Homo sapiens: one gene and its partners. The protein of the gene in region 6 purifies or fractionates together with the protein of the main gene of each other region. This does not show direct contact. Each region holds a gene or a part of one and is shown on either strand. Other genes may lie near its edges. The genes, in order: IPO7, EIF2B1, SLC29A1, PEX19, TNPO3, SIGLECL1 and EIF2B2.

What was found.
Region 1: the proteins of SIGLECL1 (region 6) and IPO7 purify together in Homo sapiens (co-immunoprecipitation; 3 studies listed by BioGRID and IntAct, with this or other methods). This does not show direct contact.
Region 2: the proteins of SIGLECL1 (region 6) and EIF2B1 purify together in Homo sapiens (co-immunoprecipitation; 3 studies listed by BioGRID and IntAct, with this or other methods). This does not show direct contact.
Region 3: the proteins of SIGLECL1 (region 6) and SLC29A1 purify together in Homo sapiens (co-immunoprecipitation; 3 studies listed by BioGRID and IntAct, with this or other methods). This does not show direct contact.
Region 4: the proteins of SIGLECL1 (region 6) and PEX19 purify together in Homo sapiens (co-immunoprecipitation; 3 studies listed by BioGRID and IntAct, with this or other methods). This does not show direct contact.
Region 5: the proteins of SIGLECL1 (region 6) and TNPO3 purify together in Homo sapiens (co-immunoprecipitation; 3 studies listed by BioGRID and IntAct, with this or other methods). This does not show direct contact.
Region 7: the proteins of SIGLECL1 (region 6) and EIF2B2 purify together in Homo sapiens (co-immunoprecipitation; 3 studies listed by BioGRID and IntAct, with this or other methods). This does not show direct contact.

Annotation. Positions count from the first base shown.
Region 1 is NC_000011.10:9,425,829-9,429,923, reverse strand, and holds part of IPO7 (importin-7), read right to left. Parts: intron 1,385-4,095; coding exon 1,295-1,384; intron 1,159-1,294; exon of another isoform or gene 970-1,158; intron 894-969; coding exon 728-893; intron 251-727; coding exon 90-250; intron 1-89. UniProt on the Homo sapiens protein: Functions in nuclear protein import, either by acting as autonomous nuclear transport receptor or as an adapter-like protein in association with the importin-beta subunit KPNB1.
Region 2 is NC_000012.12:123,626,895-123,630,989, forward strand, and holds part of EIF2B1 (translation initiation factor eIF2B subunit alpha), read right to left. Parts: intron 3,640-4,095; coding exon 3,503-3,639; intron 3,392-3,502; coding exon 3,275-3,391; intron 263-3,274; coding exon 150-262; intron 1-149.
Region 3 is NC_000006.12:44,229,736-44,233,830, reverse strand, and holds part of SLC29A1 (equilibrative nucleoside transporter 1), read right to left. Parts: coding exon 4,040-4,095; intron 3,925-4,039; coding exon 3,785-3,924; intron 3,485-3,784; coding exon 3,350-3,484; intron 3,264-3,349; coding exon 3,166-3,263; intron 3,021-3,165; coding exon 2,942-3,020; intron 2,468-2,941; coding exon 2,370-2,467; intron 1,834-2,369; coding exon 1,725-1,833; intron 1,489-1,724; coding exon 1,403-1,488; intron 1,025-1,402; coding exon 825-1,024; intron 415-824; coding exon 303-414; 3' UTR 1-302. UniProt on the Homo sapiens protein: Uniporter involved in the facilitative transport of nucleosides and nucleobases, and contributes to maintaining their cellular homeostasis. Functions as a Na(+)-independent transporter.
Region 4 is NC_000001.11:160,275,828-160,279,336, reverse strand, and holds the end of PEX19 (peroxisomal biogenesis factor 19), read left to right. Parts: 3' UTR 1-2,530; downstream 2,531-3,509. UniProt on the Homo sapiens protein: Necessary for early peroxisomal biogenesis. Acts both as a cytosolic chaperone and as an import receptor for peroxisomal membrane proteins (PMPs).
Region 5 is NC_000007.14:128,967,824-128,971,918, reverse strand, and holds part of TNPO3 (transportin-3), read left to right. Parts: intron 1-1,603; coding exon 1,604-1,771; intron 1,772-4,095. UniProt on the Homo sapiens protein: Importin, which transports target proteins into the nucleus. Specifically mediates the nuclear import of splicing factor serine/arginine (SR) proteins, such as RBM4, SFRS1 and SFRS2, by recognizing phosphorylated SR domains.
Region 6 is NC_000019.10:51,249,384-51,254,196, forward strand, and holds the start of SIGLECL1 (SIGLEC family-like protein 1), read left to right. Parts: upstream 1-1,696; 5' UTR 1,697-2,162; intron 2,163-4,813.
Region 7 is NC_000014.9:75,005,326-75,009,393, reverse strand, and holds part of EIF2B2 (translation initiation factor eIF2B subunit beta), read right to left. Parts: intron 3,529-4,068; coding exon 3,433-3,528; intron 2,818-3,432; coding exon 2,680-2,817; intron 1,673-2,679; coding exon 1,606-1,672; intron 364-1,605; coding exon 206-363; 3' UTR 1-205. UniProt on the Homo sapiens protein: Acts as a component of the translation initiation factor 2B (eIF2B) complex, which catalyzes the exchange of GDP for GTP on eukaryotic initiation factor 2 (eIF2) gamma subunit.

The DNA of each region.
Region 1 (4,095 bases), on a different chromosome or scaffold from region 6:
AGGTAAGGCAAGCCACTGGTGACACAACCTGGAACATACTGAGAGCTACATTAAAATGCTTGCAAATATGGTAGGTTCAAACAACATACCAAATGTTGTGTCATTTCTACTGCAATAGGAGTAACTTCTTCACTATATTCACAGATCATTTTCTGAATTACATTGGTAAGGTCATCATTTTCTGTTTCTCTTATAATGTGAAGAAGAGCCTGCATTACAGGTCTGATGAATGGTGTGATATATTCTTTAGCTGTAAGAGAAAGAGTAAAAAACTTGCGTAAAACCCCTAAAACTTCTTAAAACCTGATATAACAAATATCGATGAGTTTTTTAAAAAAGTACTTTCACATAAAAAGGAAGTATGCCAAGTTTCTAGGATTATGGCTTTTTACAATTAATATATATATATATATTTTATAAGAGGCAGGGTTTTGATCTGTTGCCCAGGCTGGAGGGTAGTGGCAATCGTAGCACACTGCAGCCTCGAACCGTCGGGCTCTAGTGATCCTGCTGCCTCAGACTCCCAAGTAGCTGGCACTACAGGTACATGCCACTATGTCCAGTTAATTTTTAAAAATTTTTTTTGTAGAGATGTTGCCCAGGCTGGTCTTGAACACCTGGCTTCAAGCGCTCTTCCCACCTAAGCCTACCGAAGTGCTAAGATTACAGGTGTGACCTACCGCACCTGGCCAACATTCACTTTTCTTGACATACAAAAATCCTTTACCTTTTTCTTGATTGCTGATCAATACTTGAAGGGCAATGGCAGCTTCCACTTTCACAGGCATTTCTCTATCATCAATCAGACATCTTCTTGTTAGCTCTAAGGCTGTTTGAAGGTTCTGATCACTTTTGAACTTCACTTCACAAAAATAGTGAAGTACCCAGCAAGCCTTTTGTAAAAACACAGTGAGTTACTGTAGATACCTTACCTTAAATTCCCCCAAGCTAATCTCTATTCCCTGAGTTCTGTGTGTGGGAATTTGGAGGCTGGCCAGTGGTAGATGTGTCCAGAGACAACACTAGACCAGTACTATGATCCCAAGTTACTCTTTGGCCGCATGATGTTTGTGTGGATAGCAAGATCTGAATGAAAAACACAGACAGACACTGCTACCAGACACAGATGAAACCTATGCACACATTACAGCAGCCATGTAAAGATTTACATTAAACAGAAACCTAAAATAAGACACAGGCTTCAAAGTGAACATTTAAAAGTTTCAATATAAAAGTCCACAGAGTCATTCATTACAAGACAAAAGTATATAAATAATGCAGCTTTAAAACATACCCTTGCTCTCATGTAGCCTAGTTCACTGCTGAAGAGAGGGAATACATGATTCTGCAACATGTATTCCATCTGATCTTTATAGATCTTTTTCTGTAAATATAAACAACAGTTATTTTGATACAGTTCCAAATATAATCATCTCAATTTCCAAACAGATATAACACTATTAAAAATGACTATTAATGTTACATATATTTATTCTCATTCTTTGAACCCCAGAATCCACAACCAATTTTCGTATTCCAGAACTTCACCACCAAAAACCACTAAACACATTTTCACGTTTTTATATTCCTTGATTAGAAAGCCATTATGCCAAATCTTACCAGCAATAGTGTTCGAATGATGTAAGTTTGGTTAATTTTATCTGTTACTATGAAACTTTTATAAGGAAAAAACTTGTCTGATAAAGTTTCTGGCTGAAAATAACATAACCTGAGAAAAATCCTGCTTTCAAACGAATAAACTGGCTATCTAAAAAGGCACACTCTTTTTTTTTTCTTTTTTTTTGAGACGGAGTCTTGCTGTGTTGCCCAGGCTGGAGTGCAGTGGCACAATTTCGGCTCACTGCAATGTCCACCTCCCAGATTCAAGTGATTCTCTAAAAAGGCACTCTCAGTATTCAAAGTGAGTATTTTCTAAGTGGAAAGAAGCTTTTTAGAAGAGTTCCTTAAACTGCACATTAAATCAACATTAAAAACATAAGACACTTATATATCAACACTTACATAATCAGACATGACAACTTAATGCAATGTGAGACCCTAGACTGGGTCATGGAACAGAAAAAAGGACATAGTGGGAAATCTTGTGAAACTTTAAAAAGGTCCATGGATTAGTTGATAGTAGCATACCAAAATCAACTTCATGTTTTTGATAACTTTGCCTACCTATGTAAGGTATTACCACTAAGTGAAGCTGAGTGAAAGGTAAGAATAGATAAACTTGAATTTGCCAAGAGAACTCACTAATTCTCAGCCTTCTATGCCACAAATGATTAGAATGTCTTTAATACATACTTTATAAACAAAGAGAAGGATGGGTGAACAGGTATAGAAAAGATGAAAGACGGCCGGGTGCAGTGATTCACGCCTGTAATCCCAGCATTTTGGGAAGCCGAGGCGGGTGGATCACCTGAGGTCAGGAGTTCGAGACCAGCCAGGCCAACATGGTGAAACCCCATCTCTACTGAAAATACAAAAATTAGCTGGTGTGGTGGCAGGTGTCTGCAGTCCCAGCTACTCGGGAGGCTGAGGCAGGAGAATCGCTTGAACTCAGGAGGTGGAGGTTGTAGTAAGCAGAGATCACGCCACTGCACTCCAACCTGTATAACAGAACGAGGCTCCATTTCCAAAAAACGAAAAGATAAAAGACACAATGACTAAATATTCTGTGAGTACTTAGTGCCTGGCTTTAGAATGTAAAGATTTCTAACAACTCAATTATAAAAAGACAAATAACCCAATTAAAAATGGGCAAGGGCCAGGCACAGTGGCTCACGCCTGTAATCCTGGCACTTTGGGAGGCTGAGGCAGGCGGATCACCTGAAGCCAGGAGTTTGAGACCAGCCTGGCCAACATGGCAAAACCCCATCTCTACTAAAAATACAAAAATTAGGCTGGGGGCAGGCACCTGAGGCATGAGAATCACTTGAACCCGGAAGGTAGAGGTTGCAGTGAGTCGAGATTGCGCCACTGCACTCCAGCATATGGCGGGGGGGCGGGGAGGCGGAAATCTCAGCTACTTGGGAGGCTGAGGCAGGAGAATCACTTTAATGTGGGAGACTGGTGGCTGCAGCGAGCCAAGATCTCACCACTGCACTCCAGCCTGGGTGACAGAGCAAGACTCCATCTCAAAAAATAAAAAGAAAAAAAACAAAGGCAAGCAATTTTTTTGGGGCAAGGAATTTGAATAGATATTCTCTAAAGAAAATATACAAACGGATAGTAAGCACATGAAAAATTTCAAAGCCACAAAGACATAATGCTTCACGTTCACTAGGATGGCTATAATCAAAATATACTGCTGGCAGAAATATAAAATGGTATAGCTACGTTGGAAAATGGGTTCTGCGGTGTCTCAAATTATGACAAGCAATTCATACTCCTAGGTATATACCCATGAAAAATGAAAACGTATGTCCACATAAAAATTTAAACATGAATGTTCACAGCAACATTTGTAAGCAGCCAGAAAGTAGAAACAACTAATGAATGAGTAAATAAAATGTGGTATATTAATATAATGAAATATAATTTGGCAACAAAAAGGAAAAAGTACTGAAACCTGCTATAACACAGATAATCCTTGAAAACATTACACTAAATGAAAGAAGTCACCCACAAAGAGCTACGTATTATATGATTCCATTTATATAAAATGTCCACAATAAACAAATCCATAGAAAAAATGTGGACTATAGGTAGCCTAGGGTTGGGAGATTTGGGGTGATATGTGGAGTGACTGCTAATGTATACAGAGTTCCTTCTGGGGGTGATAGTTATACAACTGTGAATAAACTAAAAACCACTGAGTTGTACACTCCATAAGGTTGTTATTTTTTATTTTTTTATTTTTTTTTGAGACGGAGTCTCTGTCGCCTGGACTGGAGCATGGAGTGCAGTGGCATGACCTCGGCTCACTGCAGCCTCCGCCTCCCAAGTTCAAGTGATTCTCCTGCCTCAGCCTCCTAAGTAGCTGGGATTACAGGTGCCCACCACCATGCCCAGCTGATTTTTTTTTTTTTTTTTGGAGACAGAGTCTCACTCTGTCGCCCAGGCTGGATTGCAGTGGCGTGATCT
Region 2 (4,095 bases), on a different chromosome or scaffold from region 6:
TTCCAAAGGCAGGAAAAGGTACAATGAAAGGCAGTGCTGACTGCTGGCAAGCTGGGGGCACATTCTGGTTCTGATCCTGTTGGACTGTAATCCGCAGTTTGCTCTGTAAAATTATGGCTGGGCACATAACTGAACAGAAAGGTACTTGCCCTGACAAATCAGGCTGTGACTCTGTGACGTATACACTAAATCGCTTCTTGGCCGCCACGGCTGCTTCCAGGACTCTCAGGACCACTCTGGAGTAGGCGTGAGTCAATATTGTCTGTGGACCGAGAAAGCTTTGTCAAAGGGGCAGGCTCCTTGCTGCTCACTCACACCCTCTGCACTGCGGCACGTGTTCCCGACACCCTAAGCATCTCTGTACACTTTCTCACAAATCAACCACAACCAGAAAGGAGACCTGATGGTACAGTTTCCATCCCATGTGCAAGCTAAAAAAGTTTCTGCCAGGTCTCACATCCTGTAGCAGGTGCAGAAATGGAACTCCCACACAGTGTTACCCAAAGGATACAAAAGCCTGGATAGCTGAAGGCTCCATGAGGTTCCCTTGGGTTGGTTTTCCTATTTCTAAGACATGGTTTGCACACGCAGGCCTACAGGAACCAAGTAGGTAGCAGAAGTCACTGCAGCAGGTTGGGTGGGGCCAGCAGCAAAGCGAAAGGCTACAGAAGGCTGGGTGTGGTGGCTCACGCCTGTAATCCCAGCATTTTGGGAGGCCAAGGTGAGAGGACTGCCTGAGCCCAGGAGTTCAAAACCAGTCTGGGCAACTTGGCAAGACCTCATCTCTACAAAAAATAACAACAAAAAAAATTAGCTGGATGCAGTGGCATGTGCCTATAGTCCCAGCTACTTGGGAGGCCGAGGTGGGAGGATCACTTGAGCCTGGGAGGTTGAGGCTGCAGTGAGCCATAATCATGCCAGTGCACTCTAGTCTGGGCAAGAGAGTGAGACTCTGTCTCAAAAAGAAAAGGCTAAGGAGGGCCAGGACTCCTCAGCCCCAGCTGGCGTCATGTGGCCCCAAGATTGCCAGACCAGGTGATGTTTCAAAAATCCAATTTTGAAATGATGGCTAACTAATTTTTTTGAATTTATAAACACTGTTTGGGGTAATCACAACCTATCTGTGGCGTGGATGCAATGTGTAGACACTTAGACATAATCTGTTTTCTTTTCTTTCTTGAGCCAAGGTCTTGCTCTGATGCCTAGGCTGGAGTGCAGTGCAGTGTTCATGGCTCACTGTAGCCTCGACATCCTGGGCTCAAACGATCCTCCCACCTCAGCCACCCCAGTAGCTGGGACTACAGATGTGCGCCACTGTGACTAGCTAATTTATTTTATTTTTTGTAGAGACAGGGCCTCTCTCCCTATGTTGCTCAGGCTAGTGTTGAATTCCTGGCCTCAAGGGAACCTCCGGCTAGGATTATACACATAAGCCACCACAGTAGGCCCATAACCTCTTTTTTTTTTTTTTTTTTTTTTTTTGGTGAGACAGGATCTCACTCCAATTGCCCAGGCTGAAGTGCAGTGGTATGATCTCAGCTCACTGCAGCCTCAACTTCCTGGGTTCAGGTGATTCTCCCACCTGAGCCTCCCAAGTAGCTGGGACCACAGGAGTGTGCCACCACGCCTGGCTAACTTTTTGTATTTTTAGTAGAGATGAAGTTTTGCCATGTTGCCCGGGCTGGTCTTGAACTCCTGGACTCAAGCAATCTGCGTGTCTTGGCTTTCCAAAGTGCTGGGATTACAGGCATGAGCCACCATGCCCAGCCTCCATAACCTCTTTTCTATGGAAGAGTGCAGAAGACAGAATAAGACAAGGGGGCAGAACCAGCTCTCTAGCTCCTTTCTGGGTCTCACCTGAGAACCCGTTAGGAAGGCAGGTTCGTGGACCCTAGCCCAAACCCACTGAATCCCGATCTGCATTTAATAAGACCCCAGCTGACTCCTCTGCATGTGCAAATCTGAGCAGCTCTGCTATAAATTTTGTCTAAATCAGTCCTGAGTAGGTGACTGCAGGTAAAGTACATACATACCACACTACACTAGAGCAAACGAAACCCGCACAATACTGACGGCACAGCAGGTCTGTGGAAGGAGAAGGCCCCAGCGAGAGGAAGTCACAACCTTGCCTCCACTTGCCCAAAAAAGGCTTCGTTTGCAACTGGCTTTTCTACAAGTTTCACTCACATCTATTATGCCATTTATTTAATAACATACTTCAAAGGTTGGGAAGGGGCTAATAAAATGGAGGACAAGATTTAAGAGTCAAAATGCAAGTAAATGATTTTATGATCAGGGGAGGCCTAGGTGGCAAAAGGACGTATGCTGGTGGGAGGGGCATTATGATAGTTTCATTACACCTTTACTGGAAGATGGTTCAACTTGCACCTCCTGTCTTTCCTCACTTATAAACACTGCGTGGCTTTACATCTCTGTAATAGCATCTAAAATGAAGTTAAAAAGAAAATTTCCCTCAATTTCCCTCTATTGCTAACCTTCACTAAGAAAGTCCTCAGTGTTAACCAGTGACAAGAGCTGTTCTGTTAATTCAGATTTACTACACATACAATCATAAAAATACTTCTTTAGTAAAACACTGTATTAAATCAAGAATCAGGGCCAGGTGCGGTGGCTCACGCCTGTAATCCCAGCACTTTGGGAGGCCGAAGCGGGTGGATCACAAGGTCAGGAGATCGAGACCATCCTGGCTAACACAGTGAAACCCCGTCTCTACTAAAAATAAAAAAAATTAGCTGGGCTTGCTGGTGGGCACCTGTAGTCCCAGCTACTCGGGAGGCTGAGGCAGGAGAATGGTGTGAACCCAGGAGGCGGAGCTTGCAGTGAGCTGAGATCGCGCCACTGCACTCCAGCCTGGGTGACAGAGCAAGACTCCGTCTCAAAATAAATAAATAAATAAATAAAATAAATCAAGAATCACACGTGCTGTCCCACTGTCCCTCTCTGCCTGTTTACAATGACAACCATCTCTAATAACAAGACCTACATTCATGCAGCACTTACTAAGTGCCAGGCACAATACCAAGCCCTCACACCCCTTGCCCCTTACATGTCTTGCCTCATTTAATCCTCACAACAACCCAAGGAGGTAGGTACTATTGTCATCCTTATTTAACAGATGAGAAAGCTGCACAGACAGGTTAAGTTACTTGTTCAAGTCTCCACAGCAAGTGAGTGGCAGAGCCCGGATTTTACCCCAGGCAGTCGGACTCGAAACCGTTGCTCCTCCTTACCACCATGATGATTATCCACTCACCGCTCCATCTTTGATGAAAGTATGGCACAGATCTGCAATTTTGTTTCTTGACAGTGATATTCTCCTGAGAAAAAGTTCTCCCCGCTCAATCATGATCTTTTTACATTTGGAGTAATCCTAGGAAGAAAAGAGCAAACTGAGGGGACAGGGAAGATCCAGTTAATGCTGAGAATGTCTGTCACTAAACAGAGAAGTGGAAAGGTAACCCCAGGGAGAACAGGCACTTACGGAGTATTCCAGGGAGGCAAGACTGATGAAGCGGAGGAAGAGCTCCCCGCCAGAGGACACTGCCACAGAGGAGTCCACACCACACAGGGTTTCTATGGCACTGGTGAGATTCGCCCTCAGACCCTGGATTGTCTCCCCTGGAATGATCCAACAAGGAATGTGATGTTCACATTAGGGCCACAGCCCCGACCTGTATCTTCAATTCATTCATTCATTCAGTGAATATTTACTAGGTACATACTATATACCAGGCACTATTCTAGATGCTAGGGATACATCAGTGAACAAGACAGGTAGGGTTCTGCTGTGATGGAGTTTTGATTGTAATAGAGGAAGCGGATAGTAAACAAGCACACATAGAAATAAAGCTGGGTGGCTGGGCATGGTGGCTCACGCCTGTAATCTCAGCACTTTGGGAGGCTGAGGCATGGAAAGACATTAAGTAGCAGCGGCAGATGAGGTCTGCAAGGTGGTATGGGTGAGGCTAAGGTTGTTTGGATGTTATTTTAAGAACAATGGGAAGACACTGGAGGTTGCCTTAAAGACATGTGTCTCTAGGCAAGCCCTTCAGATTAAAGGCTGCATTATTATTT
Region 3 (4,095 bases), on a different chromosome or scaffold from region 6:
GCCCAAGAGCCTCCACTGGCCTGCACAAGCAGGGATCAGTCAGAGCCAAGAGTGGAGAAACTCAAGCAAATGCCGAGGCTACACCCCGTCCCTCGACTCTGAGCCCCAAACCCACAATGTCCCCACTGTCCGTCCAGAGGCTCCCTCCCCAGGGCCTGGAGATCCGGGCCCAGCACACGCCGTGGAAAGCAGAAGTCAGTTAGAAGAAAAAACCGCCAGACCACTCAGGATCACCCCTGGCAGAAGGAAGGGGCAGGAGGCAGACAGGGAGGGAGGCAGGCAGTCCTTCTGTCCATCCTTTGTCACACAATTGCCCGGAACAGGAAGGAGAAAACAGCCCCCAGTGCCAGACCCAGACACAGGAAGAAGGCCATGATGGCTCCTGCGGTCTCTGCCTCAGCTGGCTTCACTTTCCTAAGCGGGGAAGGAAGGGCAAGGCTACCTCAGAATGGCTGTACCCCAGCCCAGAGCCTCTGGGTGGAAGGAGGGGTGGGGTGGAGCAACTTGACTGTCGAACCTCATTCTGTTGATCAACCCATCCTGGCTGCCTAACCCCAACCTGGCTTCTCCTCCTTGAGGGAACGTGTATGGTGGGGTTGTCTTTCACTCCTTCCTGCAAACCTGTCTCCACCTCCACCCAAGTAAGCTTGGCGCCCCCCTCCACTACAGTCACTATCCCCTCAGCCTGGGAGCCCCTCCTGAGCCATCTCTCCTCTCAGCTCTGGGAGCAGGGACTCTCCTTTTGCCCTCCCTCTACTGAGTGTCCCCCACTGGAACTCTAGATCCTGTCTGATGCCACCAAGTTCCCTGCCAGCCCTACTCACTTGGGCCCGAAGCACATGCAGAGGCTGGCGAGGTAGCCGTTGGAGAAGGCAAAGGCAGCCATGAAGAAGATGAACCAGGCATCGTGCTCGAAGACCACAGTCAGGTAGCGGCGGGGCTTAATGTTGCACAGCAGCAGCAGTGGCACAAACACCAGCCGGGCCAGCACCAGGCTTGGCAGCCAGCGGCTGTCCTTCCCAGGCTGTGGGCACCAGGCAGGGCCTCAGCCCAGGCCGCCACCCCAGGGCACAGCCAGGCCCCCAAGGATCCATCTGGGGCCCCTCAGGATCTGAACTGAAACCTCAAAGCCTGGTTCTCCTTAGGGGGTTACTCTTGAAAGGGGCATGGTGGAGCCTTCTGGAGTGCTGGAAATATTCTACATCTCGATCTGGGCAGGTATGTGTATATACATATATTCATTAAGTTGTACACTTAAGACTTGTACTTAACTATACATAAATTATGCCTCGACTTTAAAACAAATGGTCCCCTTACTACCATACTTTCTTGGGTTCCCTCTCTGGGTCCAGGCTGGACTCTTACTTCCCACAGGGGCCTGGGGCCCTCTTCCTCCACTTACCCACATGAATACAGCTGTGAGGCTCCGGCCCAACCAGTCAAAGATATTGAAAGTCAAGAAACAGGACACAGGAATGAAGTAACGTTCTGGAAGAGGAGATGAACGGGTGGTTATCAGGCTCACAGAGGCAGGTATAGCAAGCCTAACCTTCACTGGGCCTCAGCTTCCCCAACAGTAAAATGGAGAAGATGCTTCCAGCCCAGGGAAGGGCAAATGGACCCAGGAAACGGGGAGAAGGTGACCCAGGCTCCCTCCCTTCCCCACTTCCAGCCCAACTCAAGATCCTGTCTGTTCCCATCCTGGAAACCTGTGGCATCCTCACCCCAGGTGCTGCTGCCTGCGATGCTGGACTTGACCTCAACAGTCACGGCTGGAAACATCCCAATGGTGATAGTGAAGATGAAGCAGACAGAGAAAGCCAGGACTGAGATCTAGATAGAAGGGGTAGAGTCACCCAAATGCCTGTGTCTTCATGGTGGCTGTGCATTAAAGAACCACGAATCCAGGCCAGGCGTGGTGGCTCACGCCTGTAATCTCAGCACTTTGGGAGGCCGAGGTGGGTGGATCACCTGAGGTCAGGAGTTTGAGACCAGCTTGACCTGGTGAAACCCCATCTCTACTAAATACAAAAAATTAGCCGGGCATGGTGGCATATGCCTGTAATCTCAGCTACTTGGGAGGCTGAGGCAGGAGAATCACTTGAACCCAGGAGATGGAGGTTGCAGCGAGTGGAGATTGCACCATTGCACTCCAGCCTGGGCAACAAGTGTGAAACTCTGTCTCAAAAAAAAGGAACCACGAATCCCCACCCCCGGCACGCACGCATGGGCACGCACGCACACACAAAAGAATCCAGGAGTGACCACTCTCAGGTCAGAAAGGGAGGAGATGGGTGGCAGGGGGAGGGAGCAAAAGGAGGAGAGAAAGAGGACAAGGGGTAGAAGATAGGATAACCTCCCCTACGTACATTTTTCAGGATGGCTTTGATAGAGTGGCTTTCATTGGTGGGCTGAGAGTTGGAGACTGAAACTCCAGATTCCTCTTTGCCTGCTCTTGGCTCCTCTCCTGCGGGATGGAAGAAATCTCCAAGTTGTGGGGAAGACAGAGCAACAGAAGACAACATAAACATTCCCCAAAACGGCTGGGATTACTTGAAAGTAGACGCCTCCTTAACCAGTCCCAGCCGTACTCTAACCCTAACCCAGACCTCGCCTCCAAATCCCTACAACTCAAGACCCGGGGGCCTGGCCTCTCCCAGGAGCCTCAGGTCATGTTACTCCTCACTCAAGAATCTGAAATTGCTTCCCACTGCCTTTAGTCCAAACACCTCAGGCATTCAAGGTCATCCAGGATCTGCCCCCATTTTATCATTGCCGGCCCTTATTTCCTATTGTCCCCCTCTCCCTGCTGTAGTCCTTCAGTCCTCCTCTGGCTCAGGGCTGCTAGCTAACACAGGGCACTCATCTTTGTTCTCTTTGCTCATGCTATCCCCCGCCTGGTATACCATCCTCCACCCCAGCTTCCTCAGGCTCTTCGGACCTTTGCTAATGAGGTCCAACTTGGTCTCCTGCTCCCCGGGTCCTTCAAGCTTGAGCTGCTGGTAGTAGCGGTAGAATTCCTATCAAGTAAGGGAGACGGGGGAGGTGGATTTAGAGGCAGAATCTCCAGAATCCCGGCCTCCTTCAGGTTTTGTCCTCAGAACACCCGTGGTCTGGAACCCCAGACCCCTATACCCCAAACCCCAGCTCCCTCCATTTACTCACCAGGCGGGGCAGGCCCAGGTAACAGATGATGGTCAAAATGATAACAGCACAGGCTGTGATAAAGTAGCCGAAGGCACTTTCTGATAGCTCCGAGCCACCTGGGGTGGTGTCAGTGATCAGAGACAGGCCCCATCCCCTCTCCCCACCACACCAGGGCACTGGGCAGGTAGATAGCCGGACTTACTGGCAATAGCGCAGATCATGGCCACGGAGGCAAAGAAGCCTGCTAGGCCCTGGCCACTCATGATGGGGGCCGTGTAGCTGGCAGGCAGAAGGCCAGCCAGACCAAACAGGCTGCCCTGCAGGATGGCACCAAATGCTGGGGAAACAGGGCGGGCATGAGCAGGGGAGCTAGGGCTGGTGGTTGGGGGTGCCCAAGAAGACAGATCCCTGTCATTCCTACTTTACTCTTGGTGAGCCTTGAGGCTGAGCTGCCCTTCTCTCTGCCCCCTCCCAGCCCTGGTCCAGGCCCACTCAGGCCTCTGAATCCCAGCTGCTCACAGCATCCACTCCCTCCAGGCGGAGGCTGGGCTTCTCTCTGGCTAACGCTGGGTCTGAAAAAAGAGTGGGGGTAGTTGGGCATGCCTCCTCCCATAGGCCCCCTCCTGGCCCAGCTTACAATTAATGAGCACGATCTTGATCATGGTGATGACAAAGAAGGGCAGAGCATCCAGCTGCACCTTCACCAGGATGGCAGTGATCAGAAACACCAGCAGGATGGCCACCAGGCTGCCCAGGATCCGTACGGACTGGGGGATCCTGCCGGGAGAGGCCAAGGGTGGCAGAGACAAGTGGGCAAAGCTGGGGCTCAGCCAAGGGGGTGCAGGACACAGTGAGGGTCAGGCTGGGGGCTGGGGAGGGGGTGGGCACTCACCTCTGATGCAGGAAGGAGTTGAGGTAGGTGAATAACAGCAGGGGCAGCATGGCACA
Region 4 (3,509 bases), on a different chromosome or scaffold from region 6:
CATTGTGGTTTCTGCCACTATCAAAGTTCCAGCTACCTGCAAGGTGAAGGAAGGCATCCCTTTTGGGGCATGCACTTTCTTTCCTTTCTCAAAATAATGTTATATGTGGCCACACTGATGTTCACCTTTACGTCCAGGGTCTTTGTGCCTTGTCTCTACTCCCTCTCTTGGATCTGGGGAGGAGGGGCAGAGACCTGGGACTCTGTATTTCTATAGTTCTCCTGGCAGAGCCTTTGAGAATGGGGAGAAACAGCCTGGGCTGGGGCTACAGGTCTGTCACTATGCTCTCTTGCCTTCAGACAGACCATTCTGAATTCTCTAAAGGGAAAGGGCTTTTGCATCTAATCACAATAGAGTTGAAAGAGAGGCCTTAGGATTCTCCTCTCTCTAGGTGCTGAGCCCTCACCTCCCTGTTCCAGGCTGAGAACTCAAATGGTTACCCTGCTTCTTCCTACAATGCTGTGTGATATGGGTGAACCCAGCCCCTGACCTTCCTCTATCCCCTGCCCATCCTCCCTTTTACCTCCTCTCTTTTTTAAACACCTGTTTATCCCAACCTTTTTGAGCTCAAGCTGTGATAAAGAAGGGCCCATCCTATTTCCCCTCATCTAGTCCATTTACGATTCTCACTGACTCCCCGTCTTCCTGGCAGACACAAATAAACCCAGTGTCAGGTCTAGGAAATTAATGGCTATTCTTCCCCAGATACATTCTGGCTTATTTGAGATACATGATTCTCTTAGAATCCTGTCCCTTGGTTCAGGAAAGTAGCTTGGAAAAGGAGTAGGGGTATAGCTTGGGTCCCTTTTCCTGCAAGGCCCCATGGGGCAGAATATAATAAATATTCTGAGTGAGGAGTGTGGTCTTTTTCTGATCTTCCTCAGCTTCCGTAAGTTGCAGAGTGAGGTATATTAGGAGACTAGTTCTACACAATATTGTAATGCTGGGTTCCATCAACACCCACCTTCCACAACTCAGTCTGCACCTCAGTTGGCAAAGGAGACTGGATGGCCATCTTTCCTCATGTTCCCTTGAGTATTTCAATGTAGAAAGCCCTTCAAGTGGTATTATATTTTAACCTTTTACATTATTGTTATTAATGTTAGTAATATATTGTTATGTTTTCTAAATTATTTTTCTTTAAGCTGACGTGGCTTTTTTTCTGTGGCTCCCAGTGGGTCTACGGACCTTGGCTGACATATGTTGGTAGGTACTCTGGTCAGCTCAGCTGGCTGTCCTGGTTCACTCAGAAGATAAGTCTCTCCAAAGCAAATTCACATGCATTATGAGTCGCTTTGAGCTTCTGACATGTCACTTGCCCCGAGGTTAAAACTTTTCACCCCTTGAAGACCTTACATGTTTTATGGTATTGGTGAGGAAGGAAATGTTCTCAAGGTCTCAGGCTATTTGGGAAATTCCAACTCCTATACCTTACCAGAGCATGGAAGAGCCCAGATCTGAATGTAAAACGTCTCTGTTCTGCCAGAGATGGAAAAAATACAGGTATACTTGTGATATAGTCATGGGGCTTCAGTGTCACTATTTTCTCCTTAAAGCTCCAGCCAAAAACTGGACAAGGATAGAGAGGAGGAGGGAAGAACAAAAGAGCCCTTCTCTATGAACCTTGTGCCTTCTGTCCTACCAGTTTTCTTTTACAGATTCTCACTTCTGCTAGCCTAGCCAGGGCTTACTCCAGGAATCTAAATAGATGCCCTAGTCCACTTTATCTTTGTTCCCAAGGCACTCATTTTTATTTTGATTTTGATTGAATGTGAGCAGGTTGACCTCAGGTCACACTTTGTTCCAAAAACTTTTGGAATTATTCCAGGACTTGTGGTGGAGTTATGGTACTCTAGGGCAGTCTTTCTCAAACTATGTATGGTAAAGGACCAGGTTTTTTGTTTTCCAGTCCTTCACTTATCAATATGCATTCCTATTGCCCATGACAGGTATGGAGTTCACACTGTGTGCTGCCGACCCGGCAAGTTTGACAGCACCCAAACTGGCCAGACTGTTCTGTAGGTTAAGTCCATTGATCATGTACTTGGATATCACAGCAACATTGAAATGCTAAAAAGTTTTTAAACACTCTCAATTTCTAATTCACCATGTCACAGACTGGTGAAAAAAAAAAAAAGGTGTTCACTGACCAGCACAAGTCTGCAGATCATCTTTGAGTAGCACTGTTTTGGGGCCCTCGGTCTCTCTGAAGACCCTAGCAGAACTGATACCTACCTGTATCTCTTGTTCTCTCCTATTTGAGTTTCACTTCCAGAGAACTTGTTCTTCAGCAAGAATGTGTCACTAGTAAGGACATCTCTAGCATTTCTCTAGCCTTCCTTTTCTGCTGCTCAAAAATAATCGTTACAAAGCTTAGGTTTAAGCTGTATATGAAATATTTATGCGACTCTCAAACTTTAAAGGAGTTGCTCCTTTGTTCCAAAATTAAATGTGTTAGATAAATTTGTGATTGTATGGGTGGCTTCATGAATTAAGAATTGAATTAATACAGACTTTTTGATAATTGGGACATTTTCCTGTGACTCTGGAAGGTCTTGTCAAAGCCCCATGAGGCAGTTATAATATGATGTTAAGATGGCTTTGGGGAGCTAGGAGAAAACATTGGCCCATATTGAATGACGTGGAGACGGCAGACCATACAAAAAAGGACCAAAAGACTTAGAGGAAATGGGTATGCAAGAATGAATGTTATATAACACTGGTAAACCCACCAGCTGACTACCCCAGAAAGACCTGGGAATTATTTTTTAATAAAGACAATGGGAAAGGCACTGATGAAGGGTTACCAGCATCTTTGAGAAATTTAGAAGTGGCTGTCTCTCTAGATCGAAGCTGATACAAGATGTAAAAGAAACTGTTTTCCTAGTAGCAGTGGGGGAATGATAGGATCCTGACATAGCAGAGGCCAGGTGGCAACACTTAACTCTCAGAAGCAAGGTGAGTAAATTTCCTTAAGGGTAGCAAGGTCAAAGTGGAGATGGCTAACGGAATGTGAGTGGTCCTAGGAGCAGGATAGATGGGCAACCAAGAAGAGTATTGTCTTATATATAAGGGAGATCAAGAATGGTTGAACAGAAGGCTGAAGTCAGAAACTTCAAAGAAAAGTCCCCATTTCTTGTCCAGTTTTTAAGCCTGAGATAGTTCTTAGACTCATAAACTATCAATGGAAAGAGACATTTATCAGTTAATCATTGAGTGGAAAAGCACTGTTCATCCTCTGTTCTCACACCACAATGAGTGACACAGAACTCTTCTGTAATCACGTGTGGAATTCCCTCCCCTCAACAAGCAAGCAATTCTGCAGTGGATAACAGCTGGATATCCTCTAATTTACTTTAATTCTGACACTGTCTACCTGGAGACAGTGTCAGATCCCACAGGTTGACCAATCAATCACTGAGACTCTCCCCCCCAACTTCTGATGTCAATTGCAATTCCTGGGTTATTTTGCCTGTGCTATAAATCAGGGTGTCTACAGCCAGCTCCTT
Region 5 (4,095 bases), on a different chromosome or scaffold from region 6:
CTCCAGTATTTGATTGTCAGATGAGTGATAAAAGTCATGATTGGTATGAGATCAGACGAGGGAAAGCTCTAGACCAAAAAGAGTTGGAATAACTTTATGGAAGGGGAGGGATTTAAATGAAGCCATGAATTAGAGGTAGAATTTTGATGGATTAGAGAGGCAGATAGTCATACTGCCTCTAAGCCAAGATCAGAGCAAGTCAGAATAGTACTAAGTTTGTTAGTAGACAACTAAGCAGTGGGAGTAGTAAAGTGCTTCACAGGAATTTCGAAGGTAGGTTTGATTAGATGTGGAGTAGAATTGTAGACAGGGGAGAGCAGTGAAGAAGTAAGTATTCTGCATTCTATTTAGGCTATTCATTTAAGAAGTTTGGCAGTAAAAGAGAGAAGAAAATAACTAGAAGGGAAAGGCAATTTAAAAAATATTTTTCTCAAGGTATTAGAAATACATGTGTATTTAAAGACCACAAGAAGGGCCAGGCGCAGTGGCTCACGCCTGTAATCCCAGCACTTTGGGAGGCCAAGGCGTGCAGATCACTTGAGGTCAGGAGTTCAAGACCAGCCTGGCCAACATGGTGAAACCCTGTCTCTACTAAAAATACAAAAATTAGCCAAGTGTGGTAGTGTATGCCTGTAATCCCAGTTTCTAGGGAGGCTGAGGCAGGAGAATTGCTTGAACCCAGGGGATGGAGGTTTCAGTTAGCTAAGATCAGGCCACTGCACTCCAGCCTGGGTGACAGAGCAAGACGCTGTCTCAGAAAAAAAAAAATTAAAGACCGCAAGAAGAAAAAAAGGGTTTTTTTTTTTTCGATAGAAAAAATTAGATCTCTGATAGACGTCTTCAATTCTAATTTCAGTTGGTTTTGTTTTGTTTTGTTTTGTTGTGACTTGGGGTTCCGGCTGTGTTACCCAGACAGACTGTAGTGGCCATTCACAGGCGAGATCCCACTACAGATCAGAATGGAATTTTGACCCACTCTGTTTCTGACTTGGGCTGTTCACCCCTCCCTCCTTAGGCAACCCAGGAGTGGTTCCTCACTCCTGGGAGGTCACCACATTGATGCTGAACTTAGTACAGGCACCCAATTGGTATAGCATGCTCTAGCCCAGAACACTGGGTTCAAGCTGTTCCCCTACCTGCGCCTTTGGAGTGGCTGGGACTATGGTGTGTGCTGCCATGCCAGGCTGACTTAGTTTTTAAAAAAGGAAATAGGAACACAAGTTATTTTTCACATTAAAAAAAAATTAATACCATCACATAGAAGATGAAGAGAAAAAAATTTTAAAAATTGCTAACTTTAATTCTTAACCATGTTTTCTGCCTTCAAATCATGAAAAATCTAAGCATTAATCTCTGTTGAAACCCATGTTCATTCCTTGGATACTAATAAACTCCTTCATTTTCTTTCTAAAGACAAAAAACTTCTGGACTTTGTGAATCCAGCTGTCATTTTACACACACCTGCATACACACACACACAGCCACGCGTGCACACACACACACACTTTCCTATTAAAGAGAAATTACTAAAGGGGAAAGAGTGCTTGGTCTTTGGGAAGTTGAGACTAGAATTTATCTGATGTTCCTGCTTTCCTACATACAGCATGAAGAAGACTTTGAATTACGGAAAGAACTGATTGGACAGGTGATGAACCAGCTTGGACAGCAGCTTGTCAGCCAGCTGCTGCACACCTGCTGCTTTTGCCTCCCCCCCTATACCCTACCAGATGTGGCTGAAGTGCTCTGGGAGATCATGCAGGTTGACAGACCGGTAAGATTGTTTTCATGAGGAATTTATCTCATAGTCCCTAAATGTAATAGGCTTTGGTTCCTTAAGGCCAACCCTAATTTTGAAACTAGCCCTGTTTTCTGTCCATGGAACCAAATTTAGGCATATTGCCAAATTAGATTGGTAGATGAAGAGGCCCGTAAAGATCAGTAATTTATTATTGAGTTCTTTAAAGCATGTTTCTATGTCACTGTCATAGGGGGTATATTACCAGAAGTAAGTATCAAGCATTGAATTCAGTTGTGTGGCTGTCCAATGTGAAATTTGTTCACTTGTGAGAGATGCCCAAATGTCAGTTATATTAGTTACGTATTACTCAAGAAGTATTTAATCCTTTCAGACTTATTCTATAGCACTGTATTATTTCTTGGTGATACATCTAGCCAGAACATTTGGAAGCACATAATTGTCAAAGTAACCCACAATGTACAGTTGGATATATTTCCCCTTTGGATTTCTTTGAACCAGATCCTTTATCACCCACCTAAGGATGGAGTTGTTTTTTTAAAGCTATCTAATAATGCCCAAGTAATTTCAGTACTGGGCCACATGACCATAACTCAGGTTATGTGTACTGTGTGAAAGTTGAGTAGAATGGTAAAGTATAATATAACCTGAAATCATTTTTAAAATGGAATTTATAATTTTTAATATTACTGTAAAAGCAGTTCAGGAAAGTACTCATTGGGACCTAGTTAAAGTGAGCTGTCTTACAGAACCACAGAATATAAAATTGATAATAATAATATATAACAGATAGTACCTATTCCTCTCTGGTTCAATACACATGTTCCATTTCAACCTGATAGAGTAGCATATTTGTTTTTCTAAAGAAAAGTACTTTTTGAGCCTCCAGGAATCAGCAAATTTAATTCAAAAGTCCTTGACCTGAGGGAAAAAGTCTTCATACTCTGCTTAAACTTTTTTACAAATACATTTGGTTCCCAAGTAACAGAAAACTTATGTAAATCTAACTTTATGAAAACATTCTTGATTGTAAGCATATTGTTAAGTGCGAACAACAACAACAAAAAATGAGAACAAGAAGTTTGGACAGGAATAGAAACCAGGTAGCCATGTACTCTAAGGAGTGTACTGTATATCAGCCAGACACAATGGCTCATGCCTGTCTTCCCAATACTTTGGGAGACCAAGGCAGGAGGATCACTTGACGCCAGGAGCTTGAGACTACCAGCCTGGGCAACATAGACCCCATCCCTACAAAAAAAAAAAAAATTTTTTTTCTTTTTAATTAGCTGGGTGTGGTGGCATACATCTATAGTCCCAGCTACTCAGGAGGGTGAGGTAGGAGGATTGCTTAAGCCCAGGAGTTCCAGCCTGCAGTGAGCTATGATCATGCCACTGCACTCCAGTCTGAGCTGCATAGCAAGACCCTGTCTCAAAAAAGAAAAAGTTTGCTATATAACAACTATTATGTATTTTTAAGAATTAAGGAGCTGTTATGTATCCATAATTAAGAAATGCTTAGTACTTCATGAGCATTTATAATACTTTTGCTCTGGCCTATTATGGCCATAAATGAATATGATGGGAAAATATATAATGTAAAAAAAATTAGGTATAAAAGAGTAATTTTACAGCCCAAAACTATGACTGAAGTATACATTCCACTTAAGAAAGGGATGAAGAAATATTAGTGCTGACCCAAAGGACAACAATTAAACTGAAAATAAGAACCCAGAGGAAGTCTGTAGAATTTTTATTTTAGAAAGGAAGGAAGTAAAGGGAGTAGACAATTTTTGTGCATAGAAAAGGCATAAAGAGAATTCTTAGATATACTTATATAAAAAATATATAAGTAAATTAAACAGCAACAAGAGCAAGGTTTTTTAACACAAAGAACAGGCAGATATCACAAAGGAACTGAATGGATAGGACTTATTCTGAGAGAGATGGCCTTAAAATCCTTAAGATTCTGGACTCATATGTCTCATATGTATACTTTCTGACATGGTGGCTTAGTATACTTTTTGCCCCTGCTCTTTCAGGTATCTGAACCTTTACTCTGGATCACTTTTGATCTTTAAGCTCAAGAGTTTTTGGAAATCTGTTTAATTTTAAAAATATACTGGTCAAGTGCTTACACCTGTAGTTCCAGCACTTTGGGAGGATCTCTTGAGCCCAGGAGTTTGAGACCAGTCTGGGCAACATAGAAAGACTCCTCATCTCTTAAAAAAAAAAATTGTTTTTAATTAGCCAGGCATGTTGATGGACTTCTGTAGTCTGAGCTACCTGGGAAGCTGAGGTGGGAGGATCACTTGAGGCTGGAAGGTCAAAGCTGCAGT
Region 6 (4,813 bases):
TCTGGGGCCTGCTCTGCAAGCTGTAAGGGCCATGGAGTAAGGCCCTGGAGGGTGAACATCATCCTTCAGTCTGTCACATTAAAAAAAAAAAATCTGCACATAAATAAGGCAAGATTTTATCCAAAACAATTATTCCAATAAAGGGAGAAGAATCTTTGCAGCAGTGGAAGGGGAACTGCTGCAACAGGGAGGTGGAGACTGTTGTAATAGGGAGTGGAGGTCTCCCATGTACCATAAAACAAAACCAAAAAGTGAGCTTCTATTCTAGTGGCACAGTCAAACCATAAACAAAAATACCATTAGCAAATGATATTTAGCACAAAGTGTTTTTGTTACAGGAAAGGGGTTCTGATCCAGACCCCAAGAGAGGATTCTTGTATCTCTTGCAAGAAAGAATTCAGGGCTATTCCATAGAGTAACGTGGAAGCAAGTTTATTAAGAAAGTAAAAGAATAAAAGAATGATTACTTCATAGAGCAGCCCCGAGGGCTGCTGGTTGCCCATTTTTATGGTTATTTCTTGATGACATGCTAAAGAAAGGGTGAATTATTCATGCCTCCCCTTTTTAGACCATATAGTGTAACTTCCTGACGTTGCCATGGCATTTGTGAACCGTCATGGTGCTGGTAGGAGTGTAGCAGTGAGGATTACCAGAGGTCACTCTCATTGTCATCTTGGTTTTGGTGGGATTTGGCTGGCTTCTTTTTTTTTTTTTTCCTTTTGAGTCAGAGTCTCACTCTGTTGCCCAGGCTGGAGTGCAGTGGTGCAATCTCGGCTCACTGCAACTTCCACCTCGCGGATTCAAGCGATTCTCCTGCCTCAACCTCCCAAGTAGCTGGGGTTACAGGTGCCTGCCACCACGCCCAGCTAATTTTTGTATTTTTAGTAGACAGGGTTTCGCCATGTTGGCAGGCTGGTCTCAAACTCCTGACCTCAGGTAATCCGCCCGCCTCAGCCTCCCAAAGTGCTGGGATTACAGGCGTGAGTCACCGAGCCCAGCCTTGGCTGGTTTCTTTACTGCAACCTGTTTTATCAGCAAGGTCTTTATGACCTGTATCTTGTGCTGACCGCCTATATCATCCTGTAACTTAGAATGCCTTAGCCCTCTGGGAATGCAGCCCAGCAGGTCTCAGCCTCATTTTACCCAGCTCCTATTCAAGACGGAGTTGCTCTGGCTCAAATGCCTCTGTCATTTTGAAAGTGTAATGGGTAAGAAAGTGCGTGACGGATAAAGTGTGAGAAAAAATAAACAGGGTTAAACAAGAGGAACGGAGTCCTCAGGGTTGGAGAGGAGTGTGGTTTCATCAGCACGGGCTGGAAAGGCCTTGCTGGGAAGAAAATTGGCCCACAAACTACCCTGGCACCGCCCCCAGCTGCGGATTGGCTCAAGCCCTCAAGATCCAATTGGGCACAAAGGTTGGAGGAGGGAGTTGCAGTTGCAGTTCCTGATTGACTCTGGCAGCCGTGCATCAGCTCCCAGGGGCACACGCCTGTGGGCACAATGCTTCTGCTTCATTGATTGGCTGTAGAAAAAGCTCATGCAGCCTCTGATTGGCTATAAAATAAGCCCATGCAGCCTCTGATTGGCTGCAACATAAGCCCATGCAGCCTCTCATTGGTTGTAAAATAAGCACATGCAGCCTCTGATTGGCTGTGTAAAGTAAGCCCATGCAGCCGCTGATTGGCTGCGGGTGGATGCACTCACCTAAGGATGCGAGCTAGCAGGTCTTGCAGCGGCTATCACGCCCCTCACGCCGCTATCTCTGTGCAGCCGACTGAGGATCCCTAGTCGCATAAGGCTGTGCCTGGCCTGTTGGCGTCCCTGGCAGTTGTTGGGTTCTGGCGGTTGTTGGGTCCCTGGCAGTTGTTGGCGGTTGTTGGGTTCCTTCATTGAAACTGCACTAACTGGGCTTCCAGTCAGCGTCAGTCAGCGGATCCTTGGGCCGTGGGGCAGCCGCAGGTCGGTTAGGCCACCAGGGCGGCTCTCGTGCCAGTGAGGCCCCTGAGAGCCCTTTGGTCAGACAGAGGCTAAATCTGAACAGTCAGGCGGTGAGATTAAGCATAGTCAGGGAGTTCGCCAGGAGCCAGCGTTCCTCAGCCTCCACCACGTCAGTCACCTGGTCAGCCAGAGGGCAGCTGGGGCGACATCCATCTACCAAGAAGGTAAGCAAGCGGCCCGTGGGTTCACAATCAGGTCAGTGCCCTTATGAGTCAACGGTTAGTCCCTTTGAAAATCAGTTCATGAGAAAATCCACTCCCTTCAGAACCTGCCCTGTTCATTGGTTAGTTAGGCTCCCGCTAAGTCGGTCTCTTGGTAAGTTACACCCCTGCAAGGCACCCAGTCATTACTCACACAGTTATCCCATGTGTGTCTATCAGTTTCATTGTTAGTTATCCTGGCTTTCCCTAGAAAATCGTTTTCCTCACCATAAATAGGTCAGTCATTAGTAAGTCAGCCCTTCCCTTAGAAAGCCGAACACCTTTGCATCACTCACACCCTGCTAAGGAAATACACAGATGGAAGTGTGCTGAGAACAGAGAATATCCTGAGCCCTTTGGAACAAGAGACAGAAGGAAAATTGAGAGACATGATGGTGAAGGAAAATTGAGAGACATGGTGGTCAAGGAAAATAGGCTGGGCGCAGTGGCTCACGTCTGTAATCCCAGCACTTTGGGAGGCTGAGGCCGGGGATCACTTGAGGTCAGGAGTTCAAGACCAGCCTGGCCAACATGGTGAAACCCCGTCTCTTCCAAAAATACAAAAATTAGATGGGCATCGTGGCCCGTGCCTGTAGTCCCAGCTACTCGGGAGGCTGAGGCAGGAGAATCACTTGAACCCCGTAGGCAGAGGTTGCAGTGAGCCAAGATCGTGCCACTGCACTCCAGCCTGGGCAACACAGCGAGACTCTGTCTCAAAAAAAAAAAAAGAAAAGAAAAGAAAAAGAAAATATAATGGGTGCATGACGAGTCATCACATGTATGCTCTAAAACTGATGGAGAGAAGAAAGAAGAAATCAGAATTTTGTACTTAAATGGATCATTACATCTCCAGCAGTAAAACCCACTCATGTTACACATGAGGAAATAAGAAGAGGGAAAATACTTGACCACAGTTATTCAGTGCTTTACTGGCAAATCCTGGCCCAGGACCTAGACAAGGCTCATTCCGACCATCTAACATGGGCTTTTAAACAGAAGAAAGGGGAAGGAAAAAAAAATTGACAATGCAAAAAGAAAGTGGATATGTGGCGTGAATGAGAGAGGCATTTAACGACCTGGAAACTTGGGCGATATCTTTTTTATGTGAGAAGGAAAAAGGGCAATCAGTCTGGAGGCTAAGGGTTGGGAGCACAGACCACTCAGAGAGGTCTGTTAAAACATGCCGAAATATGGAATAGGAAAGGACAGGGCTGGTTCCAGAACTCTGGGAAGGGATTAGGGGTGGTCAAGAGTGGTCCCAGGCTGAGTGTGTTGGTTCACGGCTGCAATCCCAGCACTTTGGGAGGCTGAGGTGAGAAGACTGCTTGAGCCCAGGAGTTCGAGACCAGCCTGGGTAACATAGTGAGACTCTGTCTCTACAAAAAAAATTTTTTCATTAGCTGGACCTGGTGGCTTGTGCTTATAGTCCCAGCTACTCTGGAGGCTGAGGTGGGAGGATCACTTGAGCCTGGAAAGTCGAGGCTGCAGTGAGCCATGTTCATGCCACTGCACTCCAGACCCTGTGTTAAAAAAAAACAAAAAAAAAGTGGTTCCAAGTTAAATGCTGATAGGAGCTAAGCAGGGAACCTAATACATAGTAACTAACATTTTTTGATTGCTTACCAAATGTGAGGTTCTGTTCTACTGACTCATTTAATCTTAACAACAACTCTAAGATGGGTGCTATTATTATCCATGTTTTTAAAATGAGCAAGTAGGCCTAGAGAGAGGTGAAGCTACTTGCACACTATAAAACAGCTAACCTTCATATCTAGGCAGTTTGACTTGAATTTAAAATTTAAAAAAAAGAGAGAGAGAGAAGCTGGTTGTTTGAATTTTTTGTGAAGTGCTCTGATTATTAAATGTTATCCCATTTTAAAAGTTAGTTTTAAAAAGTAAGCATTTGTAGGCCAAACAAAATTCATTTATGATTGTTTTTAGTCTCTGAAGCAGGCTGACAGTGAGGGAAGTGACTTACCCAGAATCACCCAGGAAGTAGCGACAAAGATTAGGTCTTCTGACTTCTGGTCCACTTCCAGGAAAAATCTAAGTATACTGTGTGTCACATCAGGGCTAGCTGATTTATTCTTATATTTTATTCATGAGGAAGTGAATTTGGAGAGGAGAATGAACTTCACCATGCTTATACAGCAGTTTTTAAGGCAAAATAGAATCATGAAAAAGACACCACAGTTGTAGTCAAAGGTTGAGTCTGAAATCTATGAACGTAACGGCTGCATGTCTTGGGGCCAGTCATAGTACTTTTGTGGATCTCTGCCTTCCTTTTGGAAGTGTTGATAATGAGATGTACCTCACAGAGTTGTTGAGACTAAGATAAAAGATAAAATTTCTACGTCTCTAGAGTTGTAAATGGCAACCATAGTTTCTCATTAGATGTTAACCAAAAAAGTAGTTAACAGTCATGGCATGATTCAGTCATTCCCAATTGATTCACAGCAGGGCACAGTGGCTCATGCCTGTAATCCTAGCACTTTGGGAGGCTGAGGCGGGAGAATTGCTTAAGCCCAGGAGTTCAAAACCAGCCTGGGCAATATAGCAAGACTCGACTCTCTCTCTACAGAAAATATTTTTTTTAAATGAATTGGGTCTAGTAG
Region 7 (4,068 bases), on a different chromosome or scaffold from region 6:
TAAGATCTGAAAGGCAAGACACAGTCCTGGATGTGTGCCCTTGTTACGGGGTGACTAAAAAGGCAGGCAACAGTATCAAGGATTTTTTTTTTAGGTGGACTCCTGTGCACTCCCACATTGCAAGGATGTGCTTCAGCAGCAACACTCAAGTCTCCTCTTCATTCTGTATCTGCCTAAGCAATCTGCTTAGGACACGTGTGGTCGGTCATAAAACATGATCATCAGGATGGTAGAGTTCACTCATCAGGCGGTAGATGTAGGAAGGTGCATTCCCACCAATGTTGGAGATAAAGAGGGTAATGAGCTCTGGGGGAACGTAGTCAAACACAGGGCAATGCACGCTGACCTTCTCCAGAATGTCCCCTGAAAGGCAAGCACACATGCTAAAGGTAAAACTGAGGCTCCCTCTCTCATAATTAAGTAGCATATAGATTCCAGGCTCGAGAATGCAGGCATATTAGCTCCCCAAGGACGGGAAGCTATGGAAAAATGCAAACCAGAAGAGATGACTTCAGATCATGACAATCCCTGCTTACAACTCTCCCATGCCTCTGCACAGCCCTCAGAATAAAATTCAAACTCAGGATTGAAGTTTAAGATCTGGGCCCTCCCTGACACACCACATGAATTACAATTTGGACCACTCTCCCCCTTGCTCATTACTGTCTAGCCATGTATGGCCATCCTTTTCTAACTGGCTAAGCCCCTGCACCAGCTCATAGAAAACTATGATCTTCATATGGTGGACTCTGTTCATTCAGGACTCAGCTGAAATGTCATCTCATTAAGACCCTTCCTCAATCTCAGGCCCCTAGCCACTTTCTACCACATCAGCCTTGCTTGTCCTCAGGCATCCCATGACCTGATACTTTCTCATCTGTCTTCCACAATAGAATGTGTGGGAACAGGGCCTTATCTTTTTCATTCATTGTTTTATCTTCAGTGCCTAGAAGAGTGCTGGATACATTGTAGGTGCTCAATAACTATTTCTTGAAGATTGAATGTTTATTTAAATAAAGGGATGAAGTCAATCAACTTCCAAGAGGAACTAGGACCCCAACCAACTACTATGCGTTGCTCTCAGATGGTGTGTAAGGCCACCCTTGCTGATGAGGCTGCACGCGTAATGAGCTGAGCTGCTGCCTTCAGAAGAAGCCAGAGAAAAGAACCCCAAGACATGAGACTATCCAGGCTACAGGTGAGTTTTCTAAGGAGGAACATTTCACAACCTGCTTCCTTTGGGAGTCAATTCACCAAAATGACTCCTTATAGCAGGAAAACAGGTACATTTTCCCAACTGGTTGTTGTCTATATCTCAAACAGCATGCAAAGCCAAACCCAGACAATGCTAAATGATCCAACCCACAATAGCCCCAACAAATCTAAAATATATTTGTCTCAGAACAAATTAACATGGACTTGGTCAGGTCCTCAAGCACTTTGAGCTTCTAAAGAAAACAGTCCCCACAAGAAGTATGATAAAAAACACAACTTGACAGCATTCAGTTCTACTGACCAACAAAACAACAAAAAGACCAAAACACATGCACACACAAACCCCGAATACACACAACACATGCACGCATGCACACACAGCTTCTGTACCTTCTGTGAATGGCAGGACTTCTTCAGGAGCCACAAACTTATGAAATGAGTCTTCTTCATTGGGGAACTAAAAAGGAAAAAATTTATAAAAACTAGAGACCCAGCAATTCCACTCCTAGGTATGTACCCTAGAGATGAAAACATATGTCCACACAGAAAACTTATACACAGATGCTTATAGCAGCATTATTCACAAAAGCCAAAAGCTGGAACCAACCCAAATGCCCATAAACAGATGAATGGATTAATAAATTGTGGTATGTTCATATAATGGAATATTATTCAGCCTCGAAAGGAAATTCTGACATTACAACATGGATGAACTTTGAAAACATCATGCTAAGTGAAAAAAGTCAGGCACAACATGTCACATATTATATGATTCCTTTTATACAAAATGGGCAAATCCATAGAGACAGGAGCAGATTGGAGGAGATGGGGAGAAGGACAAATAGGGAGAGATTACTTAATGGGTACAGGGTGTTTTTCTACAGTGGAGAAAAAGTTTTGAAACTAGAGAGTGGTGGTTGTACAATGCTGTGAATGTACTAGATATCACTAAATTGTATACTTTAAAATGGTTAATTGTATGTTATGTGAATTTCACCTCAATTTAAAAAATAGAGACCTATAAATAGGTTGATGTTTTCAAAGCAAATAGCTTCTATCACTGATGAAATGGCTCTTCACTTAGTCCTTGCTTGTATTCAGGTTACAAAGGACAGGCCCTGCAACAATAACAAAACTGATTCTATGATCCTACTTTCAACCTGCTTGGCATTTTCAGAAATGGTCAGGCGACAGGGAGTGGTGGCAATCGTAAGCAAAGGACCTTTCCCAACTACATATTGTCCTTACAATCTTGACTTCCTAAAGTTGACAGCTGAGAACTCTCAACTGTTTTACTGAATCAAGACTTCTGTGGTTCTTTCCAGCCTCCACTGGGTGTAATCCATTGAGTAAATGCAGATAAATGGAGGCCCTGGAGTGAGGTGGTTGAAGTCCCAGAGTTCAAGCCTACCCTTTGGCTTCCTTCTTTTCTGCTGGCTTCTAGCTAGAGACAGACACACTTACCTGTGGAGAAAGTTTGAACATAGGTGCACAGACGATGAGTGGGGTGGAATGGTGTTTTGCTGCCAGTGCCAGAGTGTGAGTTCCTGTCACAGCTCTCAGGGCCCCATTGGCCAGGATGGTCTTCGTGCCAATGATCACCTTTGGGACAAGACAAAAAATGTGAGCCATCCTGGGGGTGGAGCCCTAAAAGGGCCACTGGCCACAAAAAGCTAAATGCTTAGACCTCAGAATTGGTATCGTGAGGGGTCACAGACTGGTAGAGGTGAAGGGATCCCTGGCTCAATACAAGTTCTAGCTTAAAAGTAGGTTTCCAAGGAAAGAATGAATGTAAAATGGGACAAGAAACTGCAAAACCTACTGCTCTCAGTCCCATATTTTCTGGAAATTGAGATGCCATACCTTCTGAGAAGCCAGGAATCTTTTTCATTCACTATCCACAACTGCCAAGCTCTTTGAGCATAAGGCAGGAGCCCTGTAGCCAATCCCTAGAAACTGACACTCTTGCCTTAGTTCTATTTAATACTTCATTCTTTTCAATGCTTCAACCAAATTTAGAGGCTACTCCAAGAGAGGAACAATGATGCAGAAAAAAGGGAAAAGAAATTCAGTTAACAGATTAAAAAGGCCTAAGTATGTACTTTGAAAGGTGCTAGAAACTTTATTCTCTCACCGTGGATATTACAGGAGGAGATAAAAATCAATATTTTAGAAACATAATCTTCATGAATTCAACATAACTCCAGATATACCCACCTTGTTGACTCTTGACATAACGGCAAAAATGGCAGCATCAGTCATGACAGTTGTCTCAATACCTGCTTTGGACAAATTCACAGCCATTTCATGACCCTGCAATGGGAGGGAAAGGCTGATTCTAAGAGAAAGAGTGAGAAATAGTGAAAAGTGCTCTCAAATGTAACTGGATCTGGGGAATTGTGTGATATGGGCATATCCAGCACATAATTTCCAATAGATAACTCATTTTTCGGACAACTGATTTTTCAGACTCTCATAGCTCTGGTAAGCTGTAGGGAAGCCCAGGGGAAGCTAATAAATGTCTAATGCTCCACAGCAGCACCAGAGCAGCCATAAAACTGGAAATACAACATGCATGTATAATATAATCACGATTGCTGACAAGATAGCTCCTGGCTCATTATTTTAAAACAACCTGCATCCTTACATATTTCCTTTTTGAGACCTATTATTTACTTAGGATCAAGTGAGGTCAGACCAAGCATTAGTCATCCCCAAGGTAATTTACCCTGCTTTGATTCCTAAAAGAATCAAGTTATCTTTCCTTGAACCCAGCAGCTCGCCATCTTTTTTTTTTTTTTTGAGACAGAGTCTTGCTCTGTCGTCCAGGCTGGAGTGCAGTGGCGCTATCTT